Linked DNA regions of Homo sapiens. The protein of the gene in region 5 purifies or fractionates together with the protein of the main gene of each other region. This does not show direct contact. Each region holds a gene or a part of one and is shown on either strand. Other genes may lie near its edges. The genes, in order: ADCY6, ADCY9, ATP13A3, SLC12A2, LGALS9B, ALCAM and LRRC8A.

Region 1 (3,500 bases), on a different chromosome or scaffold from region 5:
ACCAACATGGTGAAACCCCGTCTCTACTAAAAAAATATACAAAAATTAGCCAGTCATGGTGGCAGGTGGCTGTAATCCCAGCTACTCTGGAGGCTGAGGCAGGAGAATCGCTTGAACTGGGAGGCGGAGGTTGCAGTGAGCCGAGATCAGGCCACTGCACTCCAGTCTGGGTGACAGAGCAAGGCTCTGTCAAAAAAAAAAAAAAAAAAAAAAAAAATGTGTTATTCAGTGTATAGAAGACACCTACAGAATCCTGGCATATGGTAGGCAGCCAACAAACTAGCTACCATAATAATAATGACAATGGTGATTATTGTTACTAAGTTATGTCAAGTCAGGGAGAGGCTTTAGAGATCTTCTCATTCTTCCTCTTTGGGTTATAGATGAGCAAACCCAAGAGAGAGGAGGTGACTTGTCCTGGGTCACTCACAGGAGGATGTAGAGCTCAGGTCTCCTGGGTGCTGTCCTTAAGGAGGAGCACCTGCAAAAGGAGCAGCGTTTGTCTTTTGTGTGGGGTGTTTGAGGAGCAGGAGATACAGGGTGCTGGGGCTGGGCCCCATGACTTATCTGGCCCTAGTTGGTCTTCTGCTTCCAGAAGCTGTGAAAAGATCTCATTTCTAGTCATGGAGGATTCAGGCAGTTGGCTGGGATCTGGGGTCCTGTGGGTAATGGGAGAGATATATTGCAGGGGTGGCAGTGGCTTGGGGACAGACAGGGTGCAGGACCCTGGCTTCCTTCCTCAGAGAACCTAGCAAGTTGTGTGAATGTGTGTGTGTGTTTAGGGGGGCAGGCAGAGGAGATGGTCACTGTCTGCCTCTGCCACCTCCTGCAGCTCGGTGCCAATGTGCTGCTGTTCCTCTGCACCAACGTCATTGGCATCTGCACACACTATCCAGCAGAGGTGTCTCAGCGCCAGGCCTTTCAGGAGACCCGCGGTTACATCCAGGCCCGGCTCCACCTGCAGCATGAGAATCGGCAGCAGGTGGGGCTGCTCCCCGTGACCAGGGCCTGCCCCCACCTTACCCCCAAATAACTTGCACATTGGATCTGCTGCCTTGTCCAGTTCCGTGCAGCACAGTGTGATGGTTCCCCTGGGTTGTGCGTCACAGAGGCCCTGTGATACTGGGGTTTTGTCCTGTCCAAGGGAAGGAGGGCGTAGACAGGAGCACATCTGGGGGCTCAATGGAGGGTGGTCAGAGGGGGCTCTGATGGGGGAAGGTCAGGCCACAGTCCAGAAGGGAAGGTCAGGTCTTCAGAGAAGTCTAGGAGGGCTCTGGCGATGTGGAGAGACCAGGAGGGATTGCAATGTGAGACCAAGAGTATAGTGATGCCCTATTGGAACCACTGGGCTAGGAGCGGCTGCTGCTGTCGGTATTGCCCCAGCACGTTGCCATGGAGATGAAAGAAGACATCAACACAAAAAAAGAAGACATGATGTTCCACAAGATCTACATACAGAAGCATGACAATGTCAGGTAGGGTGAGGGTAGGAGGATGCCCAGCAGGGCGGGGGGTCTGGAAGTCTTTGAGGGCTATGTGTTCTGTTCATCCTCTGCTGTCATCTACAGCATCCTGTTTGCAGACATTGAGGGCTTCACCAGCCTGGCATCCCAGTGCACTGCGCAGGAGCTGGTCATGACCCTGAATGAGCTCTTTGCCCGGTTTGACAAGCTGGCTGCGGTGAGGGTGCTGGGCCTTGGGATTGGGCCTGGGTGTTGACCGTGGTGAGAGCATAGCTTTGCTGGCAGCAGCTGGGGATTTGAGGGCAGATAGAGTATGCGTGGAGGGTGGTGGGCCATGCAGGCTGGGTGGGCAAGAGAGTAAAGGTTACCCTTCCCTCCAATTCCTTCCCATTCAGGAGAATCACTGCCTGAGGATCAAGATCTTGGGGGACTGTTACTACTGTGTGTCAGGGCTGCCGGAGGCCCGGGCCGACCATGCCCACTGCTGTGTGGAGATGGGGGTAGACATGATTGAGGCCATCTCGTAAGCAGTGCCCCATTCCTAGGCTTCCTGGAATTGCGGGTGCCCCAGACTGCTCCTACTTTTTGATGAGACCTCAGGAGATTTCCTCAGTTTTGGCTTTCTCTGTCTTTGAGGTCTGTCTGTCACTGGGAAGGGGAATCTTTCTCCAACCTGTGCAAAGACCCATGCGGACCCCTAGACTCCCAGCCAGCCGAGATGGGGCCGGGAGAGCCTATGCAGTAGGGGAGTTGGGCTAGAGGGAATGCCATCTGTGCAGGCCAGAGGGGATAACAGTGATTCCTCTTCTCCTAGCTCAGTTCCATAAGATGCTGCTGGGCCCCTGCTGTTGAACACAGCCTTAACATTTGTCCTTGAGCCCCATGCAGCCTTCTGCTCATGTCCAACCAAGGCTGTGCTCCCGTCCCCTGCATCTGGGTCTGTCCTTGCCCGCTGGGCCCTGAGAGGAGTGAAGGGCCTGGGTTGTGGGCTGGGGGAGGGGAAGACTGCCAGGAGCTGATCTGGGGCTGCATCCTCCCAGGCTGGTACGTGAGGTGACAGGTGTGAATGTGAACATGCGCGTGGGCATCCACAGCGGGCGCGTGCACTGCGGCGTCCTTGGCTTGCGGAAATGGCAGTTCGATGTGTGGTCCAATGATGTGACCCTGGCCAACCACATGGAGGCAGGAGGCCGGGCTGGGTGAGTAGGGGGGTCCAGGTGGGGGGGATGGGGGCAAGGTGGGAGAGCCAGGGTCTCACCCTCTTGGCCACATACAGCCGCATCCACATCACTCGGGCAACACTGCAGTACCTGAACGGGGACTACGAGGTGGAGCCAGGCCGTGGTGGCGAGCGCAACGCGTACCTCAAGGAGCAGCACATTGAGACTTTCCTCATCCTGGGCGCCAGCCAGAAACGGGTCAGGGCCAGGGCAGGGCTGGGGGCAGGGGAGCAAGAAGAGGGACAAATGGGGAGGAGCAGGCCAAGGCCTCCTCTGGGCCCCTCTTCTGAGCCTGTACCCATGCTGCCCGCACAGAAAGAGGAGAAGGCCATGCTGGCCAAGCTGCAGCGGACTCGGGCCAACTCCATGGAAGGGCTGATGCCGCGCTGGGTTCCTGATCGTGCCTTCTCCCGGACCAAGGACTCCAAGGCCTTCCGCCAGATGGTGAGGGGCCCTCAGCACCAGACCTAGGGCCTCATTTTCTTAGCTCCCTCAATACCCTGTCCCTGACCCTGTCCTTTCTTGTGACTGCCATTTCCATGTATGCTTTCTGGTATTGGGGCAGTGAGAAGATTTCATCTCGGGTCCCAGTGCCCCCAGAGGATATGACGGGGACACCCTCAGCACAGTGTTGGGGTGGGGGAAGGAGCTGCAGAGATGAAGGTTGTTGGCCCTTCACCTCACTCCACACTCTGTCCCTTTCTCCAGGGCATTGATGATTCCAGCAAAGACAAGTAAGTCAGGTTACTGAGGAGGGAGAAGGCACTTGCACCCTGGGATGGGGCTGGGGGGAGCCGAGATCCTCCTTTTCCCTGAC
Region 2 (3,500 bases), on a different chromosome or scaffold from region 5:
ATGGAGCCCTTCAGCATTCAGCACTGTTTAGCACTTAAGGAAATTGCCTTTGCATTCATTTGGTCACCCTGAAGTCCCATCCAAATGTTTCTCTCTGCCCTTTTTGCGAAAACGTGGAGAATAAAATCTTTCTCCTCTCTAGGCCTCACTTTGCTTATCCTCAAAATAGGGATAGGAAGTCGGCGCAGTCCTGCAGGTCTCTGGAGAATTAGACGGAGTTACTTACCTCTGAGTACACACTGTCTTTTATCTAGGTCTTTTTTTTTTTTTAAAAAAAGTTTGCATTTTCAGCTTTCAGCCATCATTTGTTTAAGGATATTTTATTATCATAGTATTTGCCTTAAGTGAAGAGCTTCATATTGAGCTTCTCCAGCCACCAGGTGATTTGGAAGGGAGAAACGTACCTGCCGGAGAGCTGGTATTCCCCTCCCTCATCCTCTCAGGTTTGGATCTGGTGCCTGGTCCCTGGTTTGAAGCTCCTTACTGCTATTCTTGATGTTTTTACTGGGCTGCTTGTTTTTTCTAATATAGGACAAAAGTCTTTGAGATCTGGAAAATGATATTAAAATAAGTAGGACGAAAAAGAAAGATTTTAAGTAATCTGCTACATTTCTTCCCCCACTTCCTCCTTTTTAAACAGTCCTTATGTTTTACTAAAATCTTCAGGATTGAGGGGAACATCTGTTGTGGAAGTATGTAGAGAAAATAACACTGATTTTTTTTAAAAGCCTGCTTTTGTGAAGCTGTATTGTATTTTGTGGTCCCCACACACTGCATACTTAAACAGTTAAAAGCCTCAGGAAAGGGAATCCTCGGAAGAAGTAATTAATAGTTCCAATCAGAGATGGCAGAAGTAATAGTTTCAATCAGAGACGGCAGAAGTAATAGTGTCAGTCAGAGACGTCCAGTGGTTGAGGTAGGGCCTGCATAGGTCGTTGGTGTGAGATCATCCTATGTGTCCAGTTGGCATTCTCTTTCTCTGGCTTGTGATCTGAGCTCCTGTATCTTTTATGTATTTGTTCTCTGGCAAGGGAACATCATCTTTCTTCTGATTTTTCTTTATTTTACTAACTTTGCTGTTGAAGATTTTATGGATGTAGACGAAAACTATTTTCACCCGAGAATTCCCCTAACCTAGAGCACTTTAAGGACTATGTTAACAAGGTCAGAAACTACACTTTCTGTTCACTTGAAAGATGCTGCCGTGATGAGTGTCTTTCCGTTTAGGGCGGTGGCACTCGCTCTTGAGTCTGAAGGTGTCAGTGGACGGGGCTGTGGGTGTAACCCCCTGCTTGCCACCTTGGCATTTTTAGGGCCCAGGTGTTGTGAGCTCTGTCCTTGGAGACTGTGGGACGGTGGAGCTGGGCGGCAGTACGTTAAATTAAATATGTTGGCCCAGAGGACAATGAGAACGTTTTGTAAGCTGTACTTTGTATGCTGTATTACTCGAATTTCAAAAATGAAGAGGGTGTAATTATTAAATATGTTTGGAAATTGCCAAGTCATTGAATACCTATTTTGTGAATTTATGAGTAGTTTTATTTTTAAGTTTGTAGATCAGGGGTCTCAGACACAGAGCCAAAAAAAAAAAATGCTAGAGTGAGTTTGTGTTTTTTTTTTTTTAAACCTCAAATAGTGTAAATTTGGTAAATTAACTTTTCTTGACATTTGTGTACATTGTATATTTATAAAAGTTTTAGTACTGTAGGGAGTAGGGAAGATAGAAGGCTTAGCTTAGCTGCTGATTTTTTAAAAGTGATATTCTTTCCTTTAGCTCTTTCTCTGAGACCACGATTTTGTTTTCTTGAGCTCATTTTACAAACCTTTGTGGATAGGACTCCAGGAATAGAGTATGTCTACACAACTTCCTGGCCCTTTTGGAAACTGTCCTTACAAAGCTAAATTGAGATGACAGCACAGTTTGTAGAAGACCCTTTCACACACATAGTTAAGCTTATCTACATGTAAGATCGATTTTAGCCTCTGCCTTTGGGCTGGTGGCAGATGTTTTCTCTATACAATATTGGGTATTACGGGAGGCTGAGGCAGGAGAATTGTTTGAACCCGGGAAGAGAAGGTTGTAGTGAGCCGAGGCTGCGCCACTGCACACCAGCCTGGGCGACAGAGCAACTCTGTCTTAAAAAACAACAACAACAAAAACAAAAAAAACCCCAATACTGGGTGTATTAGCCTTTCCCTCTTACCCCCTTTTCTGATCCCAGGGTTAAAAAGCAGCCAGTAGCGGCCCTGCAGGAATGGGCATCCATAGAATGAGAAGGGGCTTCTAGAACTAGCCTGGGAGCACAGAAGGAAGCTCCTCTCATTCAAATTTATCCGAACAGGCTTTGCAGAAGGGTAGTTTCATGATTTCTGCACATTCCTTCACTCTGAAATCTGTGTCGTGCCCCTGGCACTGACTGTGCACCTGGCACTGTGGATGTGGAGCAGGATCCGTGATCGTGGAGCAGGATCCGTGATCGTGAGGTAGGAGGTGGGACTCGACTCCAGAGGCGGGGTTCAGATGCCAGACCGAATTGAGGACTAGCTGATACAGGGATGGGGCAGAAGCAGCGTTCTGCAAGGCACGCCCACCAGTGTGCCTTGTTAGTTTACTGTCGCCATGGCCACACCCGGAGTTACTGCCTCTTTCCATGGCCGTGACCTGACAACCCAAAAGCCACCACCCTTTTCCTAGAAGTGTCTGCCTAAGCCTACCTTTACTCTACAGGAAATTAAAAGTAGGTATAAGGTAAGGCTGGGCGCAGTGGCTCATGCCTGTAATCCCAGCACTTTGGGAGGCCAAGGCGGGTGGATCACCTGTGGTCATGAGTTGGAGACCAGTGTGGCCAATATAGTGAAACCCCGTCTCTACTAAAAATACAAAAATTAGCCTGGTGTGGTGGTGTGCGCCTGTAATCCCAGGTGCTCGGGAGGCTGAGGCAGAAGAATCGCTTGAACCCAGGAGGTGGAGGTTGCAGTGAGCTGTGATCATGTCCACTGCACTCCAGCCTGGGCGACAGCCTAGGCGAGACTGCGTCTCAAAAAAAAAAAAAAAAAAAAAAAAAAGTAGGTATAAGTATGATTGCAAAACTGCCCTGAGCTGCTACTTTCCGCCTTTGGGAAAGCCCAGCTCTGCAGGAGCAGTCATGGAGCCGTATAACACTGCCTGCCTCTTCAATAAAGGTGTTTTCTTTCCTGCCACCGGCTCACCCTTGAATTATTTCCTGGGCAAAGCCAAGAACCCTCTTGGGCTCGGCCCCACTTTGGGGCGCGTCTGACCTGCGTTAATAGTTCCCAACCTCCGTGAGCTCACAGTTAAAAATGTTGTGGAGTATGTTCGGGAGTGGGGAGCGCTTTAGAGGGGGCTCCTGCTGGAGCTGGGTCCTGAGATCAGGCTGTGGCTCTCCAGGTGGACAGAAGAGCACCAGGGCAGAGCGGAGAGGTGGGTATGGCTGGGCCCTGTGCTTCTCTGTGGGGGCGGACGATTGTTAGTTGTTCAT
Region 3 (3,500 bases), on a different chromosome or scaffold from region 5:
GTTTTAAAGTACAAGAATTCCAGATGTTTATCGTATTCTTCAGGTAACTAGTGGTAAATGATGCAGGTGGTCCATCATACTCAGTTCATGCATCATTTCAAATTGAAGCTGATATTTAATTGAGTTTCTTTTTACTTTGAATAAATGTCCGGCTTTCATCATGTTGTGGAACATATCAAATGAAAGAATTCAGTTTTAGAACAAATATGTTTAAAATAGAATTGTTTTACTTGGTTTGGTTGCCTAAATATTGTTCCCAATGTCTCATATACACAGGCTATTCCGGTTAAATTGGTCCATGATAGCTTAGAGGATCTTCAAATGACTCGTTATCATTTTGCAATGAATGGAAAATCATTCTCAGTGATACTGGAGCATTTTCAAGACCTTGTTCCTAAGGTAAGTAATTTGGGTGTATGTGTGTGCTCACATGAATGCATCGCAACAGTATTTTAAAAAAATTTGTATTATTGTTTCCAGTTGATGTTGCATGGCACCGTGTTTGCCCGTATGGCACCTGATCAGAAGACACAGTTGATAGAAGCATTGCAAAATGTTGAGTAAGTATTGGTGTCTTTTTTGGTTTTGGTTTTTGATGAATGATGGTTTCATTTCAGCATCAGAAAAATAATTTTTATATGTTTCTTATACTAATATTTCATATTTATATATATAATTGTGATCTATAAGATAGTTCAGAACTTTAAGTGCCGCTTTAAAAGAGTCTCATGTGCTTTTTATTTAGCTAAAGTACAATATCCACAGTTTTTTCTCTATGACTTCATTCTTTCAGGTGCTCTATCTTGATAGAAGTGGCTAATCATTTTAGTAAACAGTTATGTTTCAGGTTATTAAGGGATAAATTTTTACTGATAACGTTAAAAGTAGCCATACTAAAGACTGTAGGCACAAGCGCTTTGCTCTAAAGATGAGGAAATTGAGACACCAAAATGATTTGCCGATAATGTGACAGAAATAGGACAATAACCTAGCTCATTTCACTTGTGGTCTGGTGCTGTTTGCAAAGCAGCACACCTGTGTTCATTATAGTGAAAAGATTCATAGTTCCACTGGGGGAATCTTGGTGTGTTAGCTCTTTATAATACTGTAATAGAAAAGTCTTAATAAGTTAAATGTTTTGTAGTTTAAGAAATTAATTAAAATCTTAACATTGTTTTGTTTCTTAGTTATTTTGTTGGGATGTGTGGTGATGGCGCAAATGATTGTGGTGTAAGTATAGTTTTTGTGATTTAGTTTTATAGTTCTTACTCTAGCCTAAATCATATTCACAAAACTTAACCAGTTTTCTTAAAATTATTAGGCTTTGAAGAGGGCACACGGAGGCATTTCCTTATCGGAGCTCGAAGCTTCAGTGGCATCTCCCTTTACCTCTAAGACTCCTAGTATTTCCTGTGTGCCAAACCTTATCAGGTAGTACAAATTAAAATTTTTCTCATCCCTTTTTCTCTGTCTCTGATAATACAGAAGAGAAAATTATCATAAAAAGTAACATGAATTTGTTTAATATTAGCAGATTAGCACATTTGAGCTGTAACTTATTAGTAACAGATTGATTGCTACTCCTCATTTGGTTTAGTTCTTTTGGTGGATAAGCACTTTGTTGTAGCCGTTGAATGTTGATGTTCATCTGTCAAGATAAAATTGTGGTTTGGAAAAGGAGTTTAAAATGCTTCTATTCATATGCCGACATTTGATTTCTTTTCACAGGGAAGGCCGTGCTGCTTTAATAACTTCCTTCTGTGTGTTTAAATTCATGGCATTGTACAGCATTATCCAGTACTTCAGTGTTACTCTGCTGTATTCTGTGAGTATTAACATTGTGTGCAGAGATAACACTTAATGTGCACCGTAAATTAAGATGTTGAGCGTATGTGTTTGATTTTGAATGCATCCATTAGTAATTGTTTCTGTGAGTAGTACCTATAAATTTACCTTCAATTTACTGTAGTTTGAATAGCAAATTGAAAAAGTTAAAATGAGAAAAGATGTTTCAACAGTGGTTTGTTGAATTTGGAGAATGGTTTGCATTTGGAGAAAAAGTATAAACAGCGATGGCCACAGGTACCCTATCAGATTTTATAATCAAAGTGTTCTGACATCCTAAAGACTCATGGTGACACTATCCCATTTGACCGTTTGTAGAAAGTATCAGAAGGGATGGTATTAGATGAAGATACTAATTTACAACGTTGAATATTTTGAGTAAATGTTTGTGTTTTCTTTTTGCCAAAAAAACCATGTTGGCCAGGGTGGTCTCGATCTCTTGACCTAGTGATCTGCCCGCCTCGGCCTCCCAAAGTGCTGGGATTACAGGTGTGAGTCACCGCGCCCAGCCTATTGAACGAATTTTAAGGAGATGCCTTTTATACTAATATACTAAATCAAATATTTATAAATATATGTTATATTTAGTTTCAGAGACACTTATATTTCAATTTTTAAGCAGGTCCGAGTGTCATTTTTAAGTTGTCATTATAGGGAAAATCCAAACTATTAATAAAACCTGGGGACGCTATAAAAATAATTCCCAAAAACTAATAATGTTTTTAAAATTACTTCTGTAGATCTTAAGTAACCTAGGAGACTTCCAGTTTCTCTTCATTGATCTGGCAATCATTTTGGTAGTGGTATTTACAAGTGAGTATTTTGCTTTGTTATTGATTTTTAAAGTGTATGAAATTCTGATGTGACTTATTAAATTTTTGTAAATTTACATCAACAATTGTAACATAGCTCACACCTCTCCAGATTCCTTGTAAATATGTTATTTTATTACCAGTTGTTTATATCTTGCGCCAATTTTTTAATTGTTCTGTCTCTATTTTTTTCCCTGAAATATTTGAAAATAAGTTTTGAGTCATTATGCTCTTTTGCCTCTGACAATTTTAGTATATATTTTCTAAAAGCAAAACCATTCTTTTATGTAACTAAATACAGTTGTAAAGATCAGGAAATTTAACATTGATATAATATCTGGTGCAAAACCTATATTCAGGTTTTGTCATTTGTGTCAACAATGTCCTTTATGCCTATTTTCCCGTAGTCCCCTAGATTAGAACAAAAAATATCTCCAGACATTGCCAGATGCTCCTTTGGGGTGCAAAATCCTCCAGTTGAGAACCACTTATCTTTAGTAGATGATAAAACTAGTGAAAGTTTGATGAGGAGCAGGATTTTCACAGTCTCAAAGTATCTTTTCACAAGGTGCTAGTTACAAAGGGAAAAATAGAAATTTCTTTTTTTCTTTTTTTTTTTTTTTTTGAGACAGAGTCTGTCTCTGTCACCCAGGCTGGAGTGCAGTGGCACGATCTCAGCTCACTGCAACCTCCGCCTCCCGAGTTCAAGCGATTCTCCTGCCTCAGCCTCCTGAGTAGCTGGGATTACAGGTGTGCACCATCATGCCCTGCTAATTTTTATATTTTTAGTAGAATCGGGGTTTCACCATGTTGGCCAGGCCAGTCTCTAACTCCTGACCTCAA
Region 4 (3,500 bases), on a different chromosome or scaffold from region 5:
CCACTGGAGAGCAAGAAGCCAAAAGGGTTTTTTGGTTATAAATGTAAGTAAAAAAGATTCAATATTTTTTAAGGGTACCTATTTATAGAATTCTATCATCAATTAAATTTTGTACATTTCAGATATTTTGTAACAGAATTGACTATGGTTTGGTGATTCACCCTAATTTACAATTTAGTTTTGTCCCCTTTATGCTGTACAGTTGGAGTAAAAATTACTTCTATTTACATCTTTTCTTTTTCATTATTAGCAACAAAAGGTGATAGAATATGGAGAAATCAGTGCTGCTAAGAAAAGGAGATTTTATTCTCTACTAGTTTTGGGAATTTGTAACTGAATTTCTAACTTTTGTTCTAATATGACTTTCATTCTTTTAACATATTTAAGCACAACAGTATAAAAGCGCCTAAGATTGTGAAAGCAATTATTGGTATAATTGCATTTTTCAAGAGTGCAGGCCATTTGATTTTTAGGAGATCTCTCCAGTTGGGTTTGTCTTATTTGTTTTTATAGATTCAGGTTATTTATGTTTGTCAGGAACGTAAGTGAACCGTGTCTCCTTCTCAGTCCAGCACATTTGGAGGGTGCATGATGCAGTTTTTTATATTACTTAGTGGTGTTAGTTTTGATGACTTAGTCAAGGTTATACCTGCACAGTTTCTCTATTGTGAAGTTGCTGTTTTTTTCTTTGCAGTTAGTAAGTGATCTGTGGAAGAATACTCTGAGACTGTTCATAGCCCTGTCAAACTTCTACCAAATGGCTTCATCCTTAACCCCTCTCACATCTGGCTTTTGTTGGTTAAAATATGTCAGATGGTGATAGATGCACTATGAATTTTTTGTCCTCTGCTTCATTTCTCTTAGTCATTCCTTCTCCTTCTTGAAACATGTCTATTTTATTCGATGTCAGATACCCTAGGTGCCTAACTCACTGGTCACTATGTCCATTACTCCTGTTACCCCCTTTAAATGCAGAATTTTACAACTATTATAGTGCTGACCTTCTAACTATACACTCTCCCTTGGGTGGTGTGTATTCTCATGGCTCAAAATGCTATTAAGGGACTGACATGTTTCTATTCCTGAATCTCTCCTTTAAAGTCCAAACATAAATATATATCCAACTGATTATTTGAAGTCTCTCCTACTTATTTCTTCTCAGGCTTTTCCATCTAAGCAAGTAGCTGAAACCAGGATCTTAGTGTTTCCCGTCCTACCTGCTCCTCTTAATTTCTAATCCTTTCCTAATCAGTGTATTTATTCTCCCATCTCTAGATTGAACCTCTGCAGCAACCTCCTAATGGGCCTCCCTGTTATCAGATGTTGAATCTTTCAGTCCATTGTCCACACAACATTAATAGTATATGTCATTTGCGTGTTTATGACCCTACTTTGGTTTTCCATTTTATTTAGGATAAATTTAACTTTTATAAAATATTCACACTCTGTTCCTCAGTGGTCACTCCAATTTCATTTAATTTTTCTCCTTACTATAAGAATTTTATCTTCTTTTATTTCCTCAGAAGAGTTAAACCTTTTTCTACTTTGGGGTCTTCATATATGTTGTTTCTCTTTTCTGGTATACTCTTTTTCCCTGATGATCACATGGCTGATTCTTGCTCAGCAAACTCTTAGCTTAAGTATTGTCTCCTTCCTTATATTTGCTTAGCCTTCTGTAACCACATTGAATTAGATTCTCTCTCTCTCTCATTTGTTATTCACAAATCCCTGTTTCCATCAGAACATTTACTGCTGTTTATAATTACCTGTTATTTTGGTCATTTGCTATTGAGACTCTTAAATTCCATGAAGGCAGGAACAATGTCTAACTTGTTTATATTGCATCTCCAAGTACTTTGAGGTGCTAGAAAGCTCTAGTACAGGACCTGACACATAGTAGCTGCTGAAGTATTGAATGGATAGATGGATACATTACAGTTAGTCGGTTATCTTAGAGTCAGAGATGAAAACACTAGGTCTAGTTGAAGCTTTTATTGTTGTTGAAATAGAAAGGAACTTTACTTAGGGTAGCTAATTGTCTGACAGCCTCAAAAATCAATAGGTGACTAGACAGCAGAGAAAGCTGTGGACCAAAATCTATACAGATAGTAAAGTAAGTTGGAAGCTATCAAAAAGTTGATTCTATATTATTATGATGTTGCTTTTGTTTTCCTTTTTTTTTTTTTTCTTGAGATGGGGTCTCACTCTGTCACCCAGGCTGGAGTGCAATGGCATGATCATGGGTCACTGGAGTGTCGACTGTCCAGGCTTAAATGATTCTCTCACCCCAGCCTCCCAAGTAGCTGGGACCACAGGCATGTGCCACCACTCCTGGCTAATTTTTTAATTATTTCTAGAGTCAAGGTCTTCCTTGTGTTGCCCAGGCTGGTCTCAAACTGCTGGGCTCAAGAAATCTGCCTGCTTCGGTCTCCCAACGTGCTGAAATTACAGGCGTGAGGCACCACGCCATGCCCCCTTTTGTTTTTCTACCTCCCTTCTTGCTTCTTTTACCTCAGAGATTGAGGGGATTATCCACATTTTGATTTGCATTTGGGCTAGTCATAACAATTCATTCAGAGGCTCTTGAAACATAATTAGCGAGGTATACAAAAAATGAGACATGAATCAGATCAGATGATCATTTTGATGGTAAACCATTGTCTCATACAAGAAAAGAACACCAAATACTTGAACTGGGAAATATGCAAAAATTTACTCGTTACTTTAACTGAAGAAAAGTTAGGGGTCATGTATACCTATTATTCTTGACCTCAGTTATTATAGTCTAATTTGCTCTCCATTAATTGTCAAGAATATTTTGTTCTCTGCAGCTGAAATATTTAATGAGAACTTTGGGCCCGATTTTCGAGAGGAAGAGACTTTCTTTTCTGTATTTGCCATCTTTTTTCCTGCTGCAACTGGTATTCTGGCTGGAGCAAATATCTCAGGTGATCTTGCAGTAAGTATTATAAAGTGCTATATCAATTATATATTTTAAAAGTGGAATTTGTATATTTATTTTTACAGATAGACTTTAAAAAATCTTCTTGTCTTCTAGGATCCTCAGTCAGCCATACCCAAAGGAACACTCCTAGCCATTTTAATTACTACATTGGTTTACGTAGGAATTGCAGTATCTGTAGGTAAATAGTTTCACATTTCTTTATGTGTCGCAGAAATTTCATGATGTACGTACTATAAATACTTATTTTTATGACATTTGCTAACTTTTTTAAATACAGAAATATTTCAATAAAAAGACATGGAGTTGCTCATTATAATTCAAAAACAGTTTTTAGAAAACTAGTAATGACTTCTATAGACATTATCTAAACCGCCAAATGCTTTATGGTATCTCCAGGATTTTTATTAATTATGGTAAATTAAAAAATTATATGAAATTGCATCTATAAACTCATTCCACTGAGATACTGAAAACAATGTATGTGTAGAAGCAAATGAATTTCACTCTTACAAATTTCTGTATTTTTTTAAGATGG
Region 5 (3,500 bases):
CGGCTTCCAGCTCCATCCATGTTCCTGTAAAGGACATGATCTCATTCCTTTTTAGGACTGCAGGGGTATTATTTAAATATGCATAAAATGCTCACGGGGAGCAGAGGAGAGGTGACATCGGGTTGCATACTGAATGGATGGGAACATCCTTATCTCAGATAAGCATATTCAGACTGAGTTACCCACCGGCTTCTCAAGCCCAGAGACCTACTGTGCTTGCAAAGGTAATTTGCAATGTGCTTACAGAACTATAACCGTAATAGACTCTGGATAAAGGCTGGAACAATGTCGCTGAAAAATAAATGTTACCAGGGACCTGGAGAGGAGGTATGGTGATAGCAGAGGAATGGAATGAGCTTGGAATTCAAAGACACACAACACCTAACAGCAACGTGATGACTCCTCTAGTTCTTATTTTCAGAGTAAAAGAAGCAGGAGGTGCACCTGTAGATTCAGGTGAAGGTGCGTAAGGAGACTACACAGCCATGGGTAACACCCTTACAAGGAAATGGTCATGTTATCTGTATGGTGGTGTCACTCTGGCTGAATGTCAATTAAAGTGGTTACTTAAAAGGCCATTCACATTCACCTGATAGGGCTGGGAGTCCCGTGGGCGAGAGGTGGGGAGGGGATTCCTGCTTACCTTGAAATCTGAGCTCTGCACCAGGAAGCAGAGGTCAAAGGGCATCCCCTTCTGGAAGGGCATGTGCATCTTCCTCTCCTCGGGCCCCCATCTTCCTTTCTGCCTCGTGTTGCACACCACATACCCTCCGTCTTCAAACCGAGGGTTGAAGTGGAAGGCAATGTCGTTTCCACTGAAGCCCGTCTGAAAGTCCACAGCAAACCTAGGCCCAGGAAAAGCAAATAGTCTTCTGTGGCATGGATTATTGCCAGTGACAGGCACAGGAGGGCCTCGGTGCCTCTGCCCTGTGTTTGTCTGGGATCTTGCATACAACCTGCGTGGCAGAGACTGCTTGGTTGGCATCGTTTTTGTTTCTCTAATTTGGATCCAATGTGTTTTTGTGCGATTATTGCATTTTGCCTTTACAGCACGATTTTCTAAACATAAGTAGAAAATGGCTAAGGGAAAGTGCTGGCATTAGCAAACAAGAAGCATAGGTCCTGGAAAGTGATTACCAGTTGGTAACAAAGATGGAAGTTGTTAAGCACACCTAGAAGAGAGAGGCTTCTGTGCCAGTGGACACTTGTTGGAGGCCAGCACATGCCTGATTAAGTGCGAAAGAAGAGAACAAATGTAAAGAGCATGTGAAATCGGGGCCGGGCGCAGTGCCTCACGCCTGTAATCACAGCACTTTGGGACGCCAAGGTGGGTGGATCACTTGAGCCCAGGAGTTGAAGACCAGCCTGAGCAACAGAGCGAGATCTCATCTCTACTTAAAAAACAAAAAGATATATATATATATTTAATTAGCTAGACATCATGATGCATGTCTATAGTCCCAGCTGCTCTGGGGGATGAGATGGGAGGATCCCTTGAGCCCAGGAAGTCGAGGCTGCAGTGAGCTATGATCGTACCACTGCACTCCAGCCTGGGTGAAAGAAAAAAGTCCCTGTCTCTAAAGAAAAAAATAAATTAATTAAATGAATAAATGGAGAAGATTGCATTTGAAATATCACTGCATGTATTTTTTTCCTTTGGAGACCTTCAGCTTCATTCCTGTGGCCCTTTGGAAATTCCTGCCCCAAGGAAGGGAGAGACAGAAAGCTCCTGAGAGGAGAGGGCCCTCTGAGGTAGGATCTGTCTCTGTGCAACAGGATGGGAGTGGGAAGCCCTCCTGGTGCTGGGAGGTGGGGGAAACAGAGGGAGAGGGAAAGAGGAAGGGGTGGAAGATCAGAGGCATGGTTCTGATTCCCCCGGTTGGAGGATTCAGGGGGATCAGGGCCTCCCTGCCCTTGGCATCTCCTGGGGGCACTGCAGGCTCTCAGAGAAGTCCGACAGCAGGATAGCAATGGCGGAGGAGGTCATCAAGAATCTAGGTGGCGGAGCTGAGGTTGAGCTGGCATCTACGAGGCCCAGAGGGTCTTAAGAGAGGTCCACTGGGACTGAGGCAGAGAGGCTTCCGAGAGAGAGCCATGAGTCCAGAGGCTCTTCTGTGGGCCCCGCAGACTTCAGCAGGCAGCCACCCGTGGTCCCTCACTAAACCAGGAGAGAGCTGCACACCTCTGTGCCACCCAGTCAGGATGCCTCGGCAGGGGTCAGCCAGGCCTGCGTGAGGGTCGGGGGCCCTCCCAGCCACTGACAAGCCACGTGAGCTCCTCTCTGTTCCCAGACAGCCCACCTTGGGAGGGAGGAAGGGGTGGGAAACAGCCCTGATACAATGTTAGTATTTTGAATGGACTTAGTAGTTTCCAGAAAAGGCCTTGAAACCGAAAGAGACCAAATTACTTCGGATGTCAATTTTCAGTATTTTCATGTCAGCAGAAGGAGAGCTTCAGAGTGGATGAAAGCAGTTATGGGAAACGGAGGAAGTTTGATTTTTGCAACTCTCAGTCACAGTGTGCAAGGTTCAGCCCAGAACATAATCATCCAACTCTGACCATCCCACTCCTTCCTTAGACCTTCAGCTCCCAGGGCCCCATTCATCCTGGAGTCCAGGTTAATGGCATCCCTGGGTGCAGGTTGTGCCTGTGGAGTGCTGTCCTGTGGCATGGGTTAAGGATGCATTGGGTCTCCCCTGCGCCAGGCACGTGAGCTTGGATGTTGTTGTTTGAACTAACCGAGGCTCACAGGCACAGTGGCTTTACTAAGGGACGAGGCTGGAGTGAAACGTTTCCATCCATATACACACACCTGGTTCCACTGGAGCTGAGAACGGCCCCATTGACAGTGATCTGAAATCCGTCCTGGAGACCCCCTTGGATAGTCCCAGAAAAGGGGACGGCCTGCAGGGAGAAGACATGGGGCCTCAGTCAGGTGGCCGGCCTCCTGTTTGCTCCCCTTCGGGGCTAGTCAGTGGCTGGCCTGGGTGTGACCGCACCATGCGAGGGGCTAGGGTGCAGCTGTGACCAGGACAGAAGGAGTCTCAGCCCCACGGGTCTTAGGGTCCTGTGTGGAGGCAGACACAAATCCAATTAGTTACTCAGACAGTCTAAGCTTGTGATAAGGAGAATCCTGGCCCTGAGAGGACGCGACAGGGAGCTGAGCTTGTGTGAGAGTCTGAGAGGCAGCGGAGGCCACACCAGGAACGCTCCAGGCGGAAGGCCTTCCTTCCAGGCAGGGAAGTAGCAGGCAGACGCCCTGGGCTGGTAAGGAACTAGGTAGCAATGGGGCTGCTGGACCCCATGCCAAGCTCCCAGCAAAGTGCCCAGCGCCCTGGCTGGGGACTCAGGAGGCCCAAGGGAACAAAGGGACCCATCAAGGGTCTGCAGGTTCCACCGAGAGGGTCACCAGAGAGTGTCAAGAAGAAGGCATGCACCTCTCCCCACCACCACCATATAACAATGGCCACCATGACCTTTGCCCTCCTGACCACCTTCAG
Region 6 (3,992 bases), on a different chromosome or scaffold from region 5:
TGCTCCGGAAATGAAGAGTGGCCGGCAGGGAAGGCAGTTACCCCGCTCAAATGAAGCCGGCCTTTGGCACCGCGCCCCCACCGGGCTCTGCTATGCAGAGGGCTCCGAAGAAGGCGCACTTACTGTCCAAGACTTGCTTCCTCAGTGTAGACACGGCGCCTTTAGTGCTGTAACCTTTCCTTTCAAAACACACTGATACTGCAATGAGAATTTCGGCAATGCCAGCTCGGTAATTCACCGAAACCACGGATCTGAGGGTCCAGGGCCGATATCGGATCCTCAGATTCACGGTGGCTGGTTGCGGTGAGCCGGGGCTAGCCGCTCGCCGAAAGCGCGCAGCTCGGTGCCCCCTGGACACACGAGCCTGTGGCGCCAAAAGAACCACCGTGAAGGAGGTCTGAAAGCGGAACTTTCCCCCTTTTAGCAGTTAAATGTGTAGAAAAACCTATCCTGCGACGTGGCCCGCCTGTGACGGCACCGAAAAGGAAACTGGTTATGTGCCTGTGTCAGGGGTGTGGACGAGGGTGAGATTACATTCTCCAAGTCTCGAGGGGGTTAATCGGAAAACCAACTGTGGGCGTGTGGACGTTTGCATGTTACAAACCGACATCACCCTTGTCCTCCCTTCTTGGCTCATTCCCTGGCTCCAAAGTGTCCTTTCCTCCATCGGACAGTGGAATCTCGAAAAAGTGAAATCCACACTGTGCCAGGCCCAAGGGGGTCTCGCCTTTCCACCTACCTCCCCAGCGTTGTTACACTAGGACACCTGCTTTAAATCCGGTTGAACTATGGTTTCACAGTCCCCGCCCCAGAGCCCGAGATTTGTCAGAGAACGCAGACGCCTTTTTTTTCCCTCAGCCTCAGAAACATCAGGTGAGCTCATTACCTCACCCAGAAATGTAACTTTAATAAAGAGATCTGGAGAGGGCACTCCTCCCGCCCACACACACAGCAACGGCAGCAGCAGCAGCAGCTCGCAAACACTTGTAATCTCTTCCTCAGGCTCTGGCCCCCAAACCCCTCTCCCCGCCAGTTCCTGGGAGAGATTCAGAGGCTTTCAAACCTCTTCTGTGACCTGAGCTTGCCGACAGCTGAAGGGATGTGCACGGATAAAAGGAAGTGAGATTTTTCTTTGATAAAAGCTAAAGAAAAAGCTAAGAACAAACAGGCCAAAATACCAGGAAGTAGGAGTTTAACTGGCAACTGTCTACGCAGGGATAGAAAAAAAAAACTTCAAAGAAAAAAAAATCCCCTAAATTTTCAGTTTAGGGGAGCAAAGGAACCTGCTGCTCTGTCAGGCAACTGTGAGCGCACGGAATACCCTGTTAGAACAACTTGTGTCAGCCGCCAGGCGGGCCTGAGGATACCAGGGCCAGGGGACGTCCCCGAGGGTGTGGAAAGGGATTTCCCGAGAGATATTTTAGTTGTTGGGAATTTTGCCTTTTCTCTCTCTCTCTCTCTCTCTCTCTCTCTCTCTCTCTCTCTTCCAAGACTCAGTACAGAACTGAGAACTGAGGCTCTATGAGCAGGTCCTGGAAATTCACAAACCTCTCACTGAGGTGTCTCCCAGGCCTACCTACTAATTCCTGTTCTGGCTGTGTTATCTGCCTGCGGTCACCCTTTCACTCACCACCCGCCCAGACAATGGACGGGGACCGCAGGGGGTAACGTTGAAACCACGATTTTAAGCTTTAGCAGGTTTCGCAAGGGGGGCGGGGGGAGGTGATTAAAGTCCTCTCCTTCTCTACCCCTCCCATCCCTTCCTCGGCTCACCAAGGGGAAGTTACTAGGGGATTTATCACGAAAAAGTGCCGGCAGTTATTTCATCCGAGAACTAAGCGAAAGAAAAACTGCTCGGGGCGCAGTGACGTGGACTTGGATACCCAGAGACAGGAGGAACTGTCAGAGGGCAAGAGTCCGCCGCCTAGCTGGGAGCCGCAGGGACAAGGGGAGAGCGTCAGGCGAATCCTGCCCACCCCGGAGCACCAAGTTCCTGGAGATTCACCCAGTTTCCCCAGCTTGATGCCCAAACTTGAGCTAACCAGCCAAGCCCAAACGTGCGGCACAGGTGACCGAGCCCGGGGACAGCTCTGTGCCAGGACAGCGGTCCCCTTACCTCCACCACGCGCCTGGGCGCACTGCCTCGGGGGTGCGAGGCTGGGACGGGGACCTAGGAAACTGCTCCAGGCCCACGTCTGTCTGGGGCTGCTCCCAGGCCCTTGCTCACCTGGCCTGAAGACGGTGGCGGAGATCAAGAGGCAGAAGAGCAGACGGCAGGAACTGGCCCCCTTGGATTCCATATTCCTCCTCCTTCTTGGTGGGCCACTGACGGAGTCCACGCCGCAGGAGGGGGCGTCGTCCCGGGCCCCGCGGTGCCCGCGCGCTGGCGGGTCCCGACGCAGGGGCAGCGTCTTCTCCCAGACACACCGTCCCCTGGGCTGTGGCGCTGCACCTTCGGTTCTCTGCCGCACGCAACTTTCCACCACGCAATGCCCCCAACTCCTCCTCCCTCCCGGTCAACACCAGCCCACGGGCCCTTCGGCTGCTCCTCCGGGGACAACGACCCTCTGTTTCCAGGAGACACTTGAGTAATTCGGAAAGGTGTAAGCGGTTCTTTTCGCTGGTATCTTCTTTTATTTTCCTTGTATTGGAATGATAATAATAATGGCAGTGGCAATGTGCATGAAACGCCAGGTGCTAAGAAGGACTCGCAGGAGGCGGCGACGGGGGGGCGGCGGGTCTCCTCAGGTGGCAGCGGTGGTAGCAGCGGCAGCGGCGGCAGCGGTCTCCGGGCTGCTCTGAGTAGAGGGACTGGAAGGCGTGTGTAAGCTGCCTCTTTCCTCCTCTCCCCGCCTCCTCCCTCCCTCCCGTCTCCTCCCCACTTCCCCGGACGCAGCGCAAAGCAGGTGGTTGAAGCGCGGATCCGCAGCCTAGAGGCGCTGCAGGACTGAGTCCGAGCCCTGAGCCCAGCTCCGGGATCAGGGAGAACCGCGTGCCCCGGTCCTGGAGCCCGGATGAGCGGTGCTTCACCGCGGCTCCGCCCCCAGGGCCAGGTCCGCCAATAAGAAGCAAGCACAGGAGCCGCGCGCGCCAGGGAGAGCCCTGGGACTAACACTTTCTGTGATGTTGCAGCGCCCCAGTGATAAGGCCTCTGGCTTCCAACTGCCCACCCACCCTCGCTGAGGTTTAAAAATCGACTGCCCTCTCCCTCCACCCATACGCCCATCCCACTGACTCATTCCTCAGAGATTTTTCTCCGCCGTGCTGCTGCAGCCTTCTGTCCTGTAAAGAGAATAGTGGGGCAGGGCGGTGGCGGTGGGGAGCGAACCTTGGGTCCAAGAGCGGGAGTGAAGGGAAAAGGAAAGGAAAGGGCAGGAGGAAGTGGCAAAGGTGGAAACTTGCTTCTTGGGAGTTAACAGGAATAGCTACTTGTTGGCAGGGGCAACCCCTGTACTGGACTGATTCCTCCTGTACTTTTCGAATCTCTCTCCTCCCCCTGCTCACCCCCACCACTCCCCTCACACCCGGCTGGCATAGACTTGGTTTTAAAGGAAGACTACGTGAGTCGACTGCCCGGTACCAACAGAAGATATTTGCTTTTCCCGGGGGAAATTAAATCCGGAATTTCTAAACCGTACTTCGTCATACGGATTTTCCCAATGTCTACAAAAGCCCTCTAGAGAGCGTGTCACTTTTTTACTTTGAGTTAAGCGGTGATTTTAAGTTATAGACAGAAAATCCTCAAATTATTTCAGATTAAAAGCCAAGTCCGTCTTGGTCCGTTCCCGAAAGCCAGGCACTCCAGCAGATGGACAGGCTTCTTAGGCAATTTCTAAAGATTGAACCACCTCCCAGGAGGAACATCGGGAAGCTGTGTTGCTTTCAAATCAGGCAGAGAGCATGAAGGAAGATTTTCCTCTAGAACACCGGGGTGGAGCTGTCGGAGCCCTAAGTGGCTCTAAATCAGGGATGCAGGATCACAACTCTCATCA
Region 7 (3,500 bases), on a different chromosome or scaffold from region 5:
CCTCTTCTGCAGACTCCTGTCCTTCTCCCTCTCTGCTCTCCACAGTGAGCAAGTCAAGGACCCATCTTCACCCATGAGCCTGGAAAGGGTGACTCCTTGGGCTTCAGGTGGATTCAAGATGGTCCCTTGGACATCCCAGAGCCCCAGACACCTGACATGAGACACACCTTGGCCTCTGAAAACCTGTGCTTCCTCCAGTCTCAACAATCCACAAAAAAAAGCTCAAGTCACTCAGACCACCCCCACCATCAACTCCCGTCCCTTTGAATTCCCCCTCCAGCGTCTCCCAGATCCGTCCATGTCTCTCCATCCCTACCTGCCTTGGCCACGCCAGGCCCCGTGGCCTCACCTGATGGCTAATCGTGGTCTCTTAACAGCTCTCTTCCACCTCCCACCTCTCACTCACCCCACCCCACACACTACCGCAAGAGGAACCTCACGCTGCAAGTCAGCTCATTCCTTCACCCACTCAATCACTAGGAATTCGGTAAACACTTGCTTGAACAAAAGAGCTAGGTCTTAGTCATCAGAGCCTATGGGCTGGCAAGGGATCGGCTGTTAAACAAATGAAGAGACAATTGAAACTGAGGTGTAGGACAGGACCCCCCTGCCATCCACACCCCCCCCCATAGCCCCACCTCTGCTCTCCAGGATGCCCACATTCCTGGGCAGCCCATCTCACTGCTCCTCCCCACCAGAACCTCCTGGACTGTCCCTTTCCCCTCCACCTGGCTTCCTCCTCCTCGTTCTTCAGGGGCCTGTTCCTCTGTGTTCCCAGGGACCTGGTGCTCCAGCAGAGCGCCTACGCACTGTGCTAACTGCCTCGTTACTTGGCCTTCTTCATCCCCATGTCCCCGGCGCCTTGCTCCATAGCTGGATTCTAGAAGTGCTCAAAAAACATCTGCACAAAGGCCAGGCGAAGTGGCTCATGCCTGTAATACCAGCACTTTGGGCGGCCAAGGTGGGAGGCTTTGAGGCCAGGAGTTTAAAGACCAGCCTAGAAAACACAGTGAGACCCTGTCTCTACCAAAAAAACAAACAAACAAAACATAACAATTTGCACACATCAGTAAACGAGTGAACGAATGAATACTGTCTTGTCAAGGCTTTCATTAGCAAGAGTATAAATCTGGAGAAACAGCACGCAAGGGCGTGGGCAGGCCACGCCCACCCCTCCTGGTCACCACTGGCCAAGGTGGCTGAGAAGGAGCCATCAAGCCCGAGTGAGGAGGAAGAGGGGCTCAGGCCTCCCACTCAGAATGAGGGGCCTGCCTGGGGTTGGCCCAAGTGAACTGTTTTCCCTATTAAGGCTCTGGTGTTCCAGGGGGTGGGGACAGGATGTGATTAAGCCATGTGCTAAACAGGGTGTCCAGAGGGTCTCCTTCCTCTGGGACAGCGTGCTTGCCGCCAGCTCCTTTCCTGAGGGGTGACCTCAGCCAGCAGGCATGACACTAACAGGCAAGCTTGGCGGGAGGAGCTGGGGGTGGGGGACAGGATGGGGAGCCAGGCTGGAGGCTTGAACCCTCCCCCAACCAGGAGGACAGCCCCAGCACAGCACCCGGGACAGGGCAGGAATGGCAGGAGCTGTGAGGAAGTCCCAGCTTATCAAGGGCAGCACTGTGCTATGGGGAAGCCACAGGGTCTCCCCCTCCACAGATTAAAGAAGGGCTGGGTTTGTTCTGTGCTTCCCAAATGTGGCTTCTCCCCAGGGGACTCCAGTTTTCCTATTCAGTGGGCCTGTCCCGAAACTACAAGAGAAAACCCTGCCCTGGTCCACTCTCCCACTGTGCTCAAGTCATAATATGGGGTGGCCGGAGATAAGGACTTGTCAAAATCCCTGATACATGTGGGTTGCAGGTTGCTCTGCAGTAAGGGAGCCCTGGGGAAGAGGGGAGGAAGGCTTCCAAGCCAGCAGGCATCTGGAGGGCCTGAAGCATCTAGTCTGAGTGATGCTGGAGAAGGTGTGTCCTGTCCTGGGGCCCAGGAGGACAGACAGGGCATTCCAGGGGCCACCTCCCTCCGTGCCTGAGGATACTATAGACAGACCGGGCATTCCAGGGGCCACCTCCCTCCGTGCCTGAGGATGCTATAGACAGACCCTGTTGGGAGGACTCAGCAGGTTGGTGGAAGGAGGACAGGTGCATCATGCCTGGCACAGGGCGAACACAGAGCAGGTGCCCACGAAACCAACAGGGACTGCACCGTGGGGCTGCTGCATGGCAGATGCACCCAACAGCAACAACCGAACTAAGAAACGCGGGTTGCCACACGGAGGCTGCAGAGGGGAGGGTGCTTAGTGAAAATGCTCTATGAGCTGCACGCTTTTTATAAGCAGGAGTGGTTTTCCTATTTGGCTCACTGCTGCTGGACCACCCTGTAAGTAAGTTCCCCCAAATAAACCCCATGTTTCAATGGCCGGCTCCAGGGCTCTTCATTTTACTTTGAGACTGGGTCTCACTCTATTGCCCAGGCTGAAGTACAGTGGTACAACCATAGCTCACTGCAGTCTTGAACTCCTAGGCTGAAGCGATCCTGCCTCAGCCTCCCAAATAGCTGGGACTACAGGCACATGCCACCATGCCTGGATCATTTCTGTATTTTTGGTAGAGATGGGGTTTCCCTATGTTGCCCAGGCTGGTCTCGAACTCCTGAGCTCAAGTGACCGCCCCACCTTGGCTTCCCTAAGTGCTCGGATTACAGGTTTGACCCACTGGGCCTGGTCAACTCCGAGTCTCTTCTTCAGCCTCCTGAACCTGGTGGCATCCCTAGTGAAGTTCACAGGGGCCCGGCACGACAGCTGCTGCTGTGTCGGGGGCAGAAGGGTGGCTGGCTGGGCTCTCCCTTGTCTCCCAGCGCCTGGCCTCAGGCTTCCTCCACCACATGTCTCACTACAGGAATCTCCACCTGGATGTGAGGCCCAGGAAAACCTGCAGGTCCCCAGGACGGGTGGAAGAGGGACGTTCCCCACAATGGCAGTGGCTTTGTTTCCATTTCGGAGGCCAGACCACAGAGCCACAGGAGTACCCAGCCCTCCATCCACACTGCCTGCCTCCACCAAGGGGCCCTTGGATGGGGGCTTCCCCAGCCAGGTAAGAGACTGGCACCCACAGACCACCAACAGTCTTGAAAGTATGTCGAAGGTGTGGCCTCCCAAACTCCCAGTGACAATGATTTGCACAATTTCCTTTTCAGAAGGGCAGGCAGAAACAAACTAGCCCCATCTAGGCCCAACTCTGCCTCTGACACCACCAAATGCAGTGGAGAAAGGTGTGTGGGAGCTGCAGAGACCATCCAAGGCTTCCCCTCAGCCAGCACTGGCCACCCACACAGTTTCTGTCCTGGGTGGACCCGGATTGGCTCCTTGCCTCCAAGTCCGACTGGGAACAAGCTGAGGAAGACACAAACTCCAGGCTAAGTCTTGACTCCCACCACCCGGCTTTGCGAGAGAACCCCCGGGTTTGGACCTCCTGCCCAAGCACATCCCTGCTGAAGAGGAACCC

What was found.
Region 1: the proteins of LGALS9B (region 5) and ADCY6 purify together in Homo sapiens (affinity purification with mass spectrometry; one large-scale study listed by BioGRID and IntAct). This does not show direct contact.
Region 2: the proteins of LGALS9B (region 5) and ADCY9 purify together in Homo sapiens (affinity purification with mass spectrometry; one large-scale study listed by BioGRID and IntAct). This does not show direct contact.
Region 3: the proteins of LGALS9B (region 5) and ATP13A3 purify together in Homo sapiens (affinity purification with mass spectrometry; one large-scale study listed by BioGRID and IntAct). This does not show direct contact.
Region 4: the proteins of LGALS9B (region 5) and SLC12A2 purify together in Homo sapiens (affinity purification with mass spectrometry; one large-scale study listed by BioGRID and IntAct). This does not show direct contact.
Region 6: the proteins of LGALS9B (region 5) and ALCAM purify together in Homo sapiens (affinity purification with mass spectrometry; one large-scale study listed by BioGRID and IntAct). This does not show direct contact.
Region 7: the proteins of LGALS9B (region 5) and LRRC8A purify together in Homo sapiens (affinity purification with mass spectrometry; one large-scale study listed by BioGRID and IntAct). This does not show direct contact.

Annotation. Positions count from the first base shown.
Region 1 is NC_000012.12:48,775,590-48,779,089, reverse strand, and holds part of ADCY6 (adenylate cyclase type 6), read left to right. Parts: intron 1-832; coding exon 833-982; intron 983-1,353; coding exon 1,354-1,475; intron 1,476-1,568; coding exon 1,569-1,680; intron 1,681-1,858; coding exon 1,859-1,986; intron 1,987-2,503; coding exon 2,504-2,662; intron 2,663-2,739; coding exon 2,740-2,881; intron 2,882-2,998; coding exon 2,999-3,127; intron 3,128-3,391; coding exon 3,392-3,417; intron 3,418-3,500. UniProt on the Homo sapiens protein: Catalyzes the formation of the signaling molecule cAMP downstream of G protein-coupled receptors. Functions in signaling cascades downstream of beta-adrenergic receptors in the heart and in vascular smooth muscle cells.
Region 2 is NC_000016.10:4,109,943-4,113,442, reverse strand, and holds part of ADCY9 (adenylate cyclase type 9), read left to right. Parts: intron 1-3,500. UniProt on the Homo sapiens protein: Adenylyl cyclase that catalyzes the formation of the signaling molecule cAMP in response to activation of G protein-coupled receptors.
Region 3 is NC_000003.12:194,428,003-194,431,502, reverse strand, and holds part of ATP13A3 (polyamine-transporting ATPase 13A3), read left to right. Parts: intron 1-276; coding exon 277-399; intron 400-480; coding exon 481-560; intron 561-1,187; coding exon 1,188-1,230; intron 1,231-1,321; coding exon 1,322-1,431; intron 1,432-1,728; coding exon 1,729-1,825; intron 1,826-2,585; coding exon 2,586-2,658; intron 2,659-3,500. UniProt on the Homo sapiens protein: ATP-driven pump involved in endocytosis-dependent polyamine transport. Uses ATP as an energy source to transfer polyamine precursor putrescine from the endosomal compartment to the cytosol.
Region 4 is NC_000005.10:128,135,766-128,139,265, forward strand, and holds part of SLC12A2 (solute carrier family 12 member 2), read left to right. Parts: coding exon 1-43; intron 44-2,831; coding exon 2,832-2,959; intron 2,960-3,058; coding exon 3,059-3,143; intron 3,144-3,500. UniProt on the Homo sapiens protein: Cation-chloride cotransporter which mediates the electroneutral transport of chloride, potassium and/or sodium ions across the membrane. Plays a vital role in the regulation of ionic balance and cell volume.
Region 5 is NC_000017.11:20,457,540-20,461,039, forward strand, and holds part of LGALS9B (galectin-9B), read right to left. Parts: intron 2,905-3,500; coding exon 2,813-2,904; intron 846-2,812; coding exon 644-845; intron 1-643.
Region 6 is NC_000003.12:105,365,717-105,369,708, reverse strand, and holds the start of ALCAM (CD166 antigen isoform 1 precursor), read right to left. Parts: upstream 2,801-3,992; 5' UTR 2,301-2,800; coding exon 2,228-2,300; intron 1-2,227. UniProt on the Homo sapiens protein: Cell adhesion molecule that mediates both heterotypic cell-cell contacts via its interaction with CD6, as well as homotypic cell-cell contacts. Promotes T-cell activation and proliferation via its interactions with CD6.
Region 7 is NC_000009.12:128,909,633-128,913,132, reverse strand, and holds part of LRRC8A (volume-regulated anion channel subunit LRRC8A), read right to left. Parts: exon of another isoform or gene 3,193-3,500; intron 3,090-3,192; exon of another isoform or gene 1-3,089. UniProt on the Homo sapiens protein: Essential component of the volume-regulated anion channel (VRAC, also named VSOAC channel), an anion channel required to maintain a constant cell volume in response to extracellular or intracellular osmotic changes.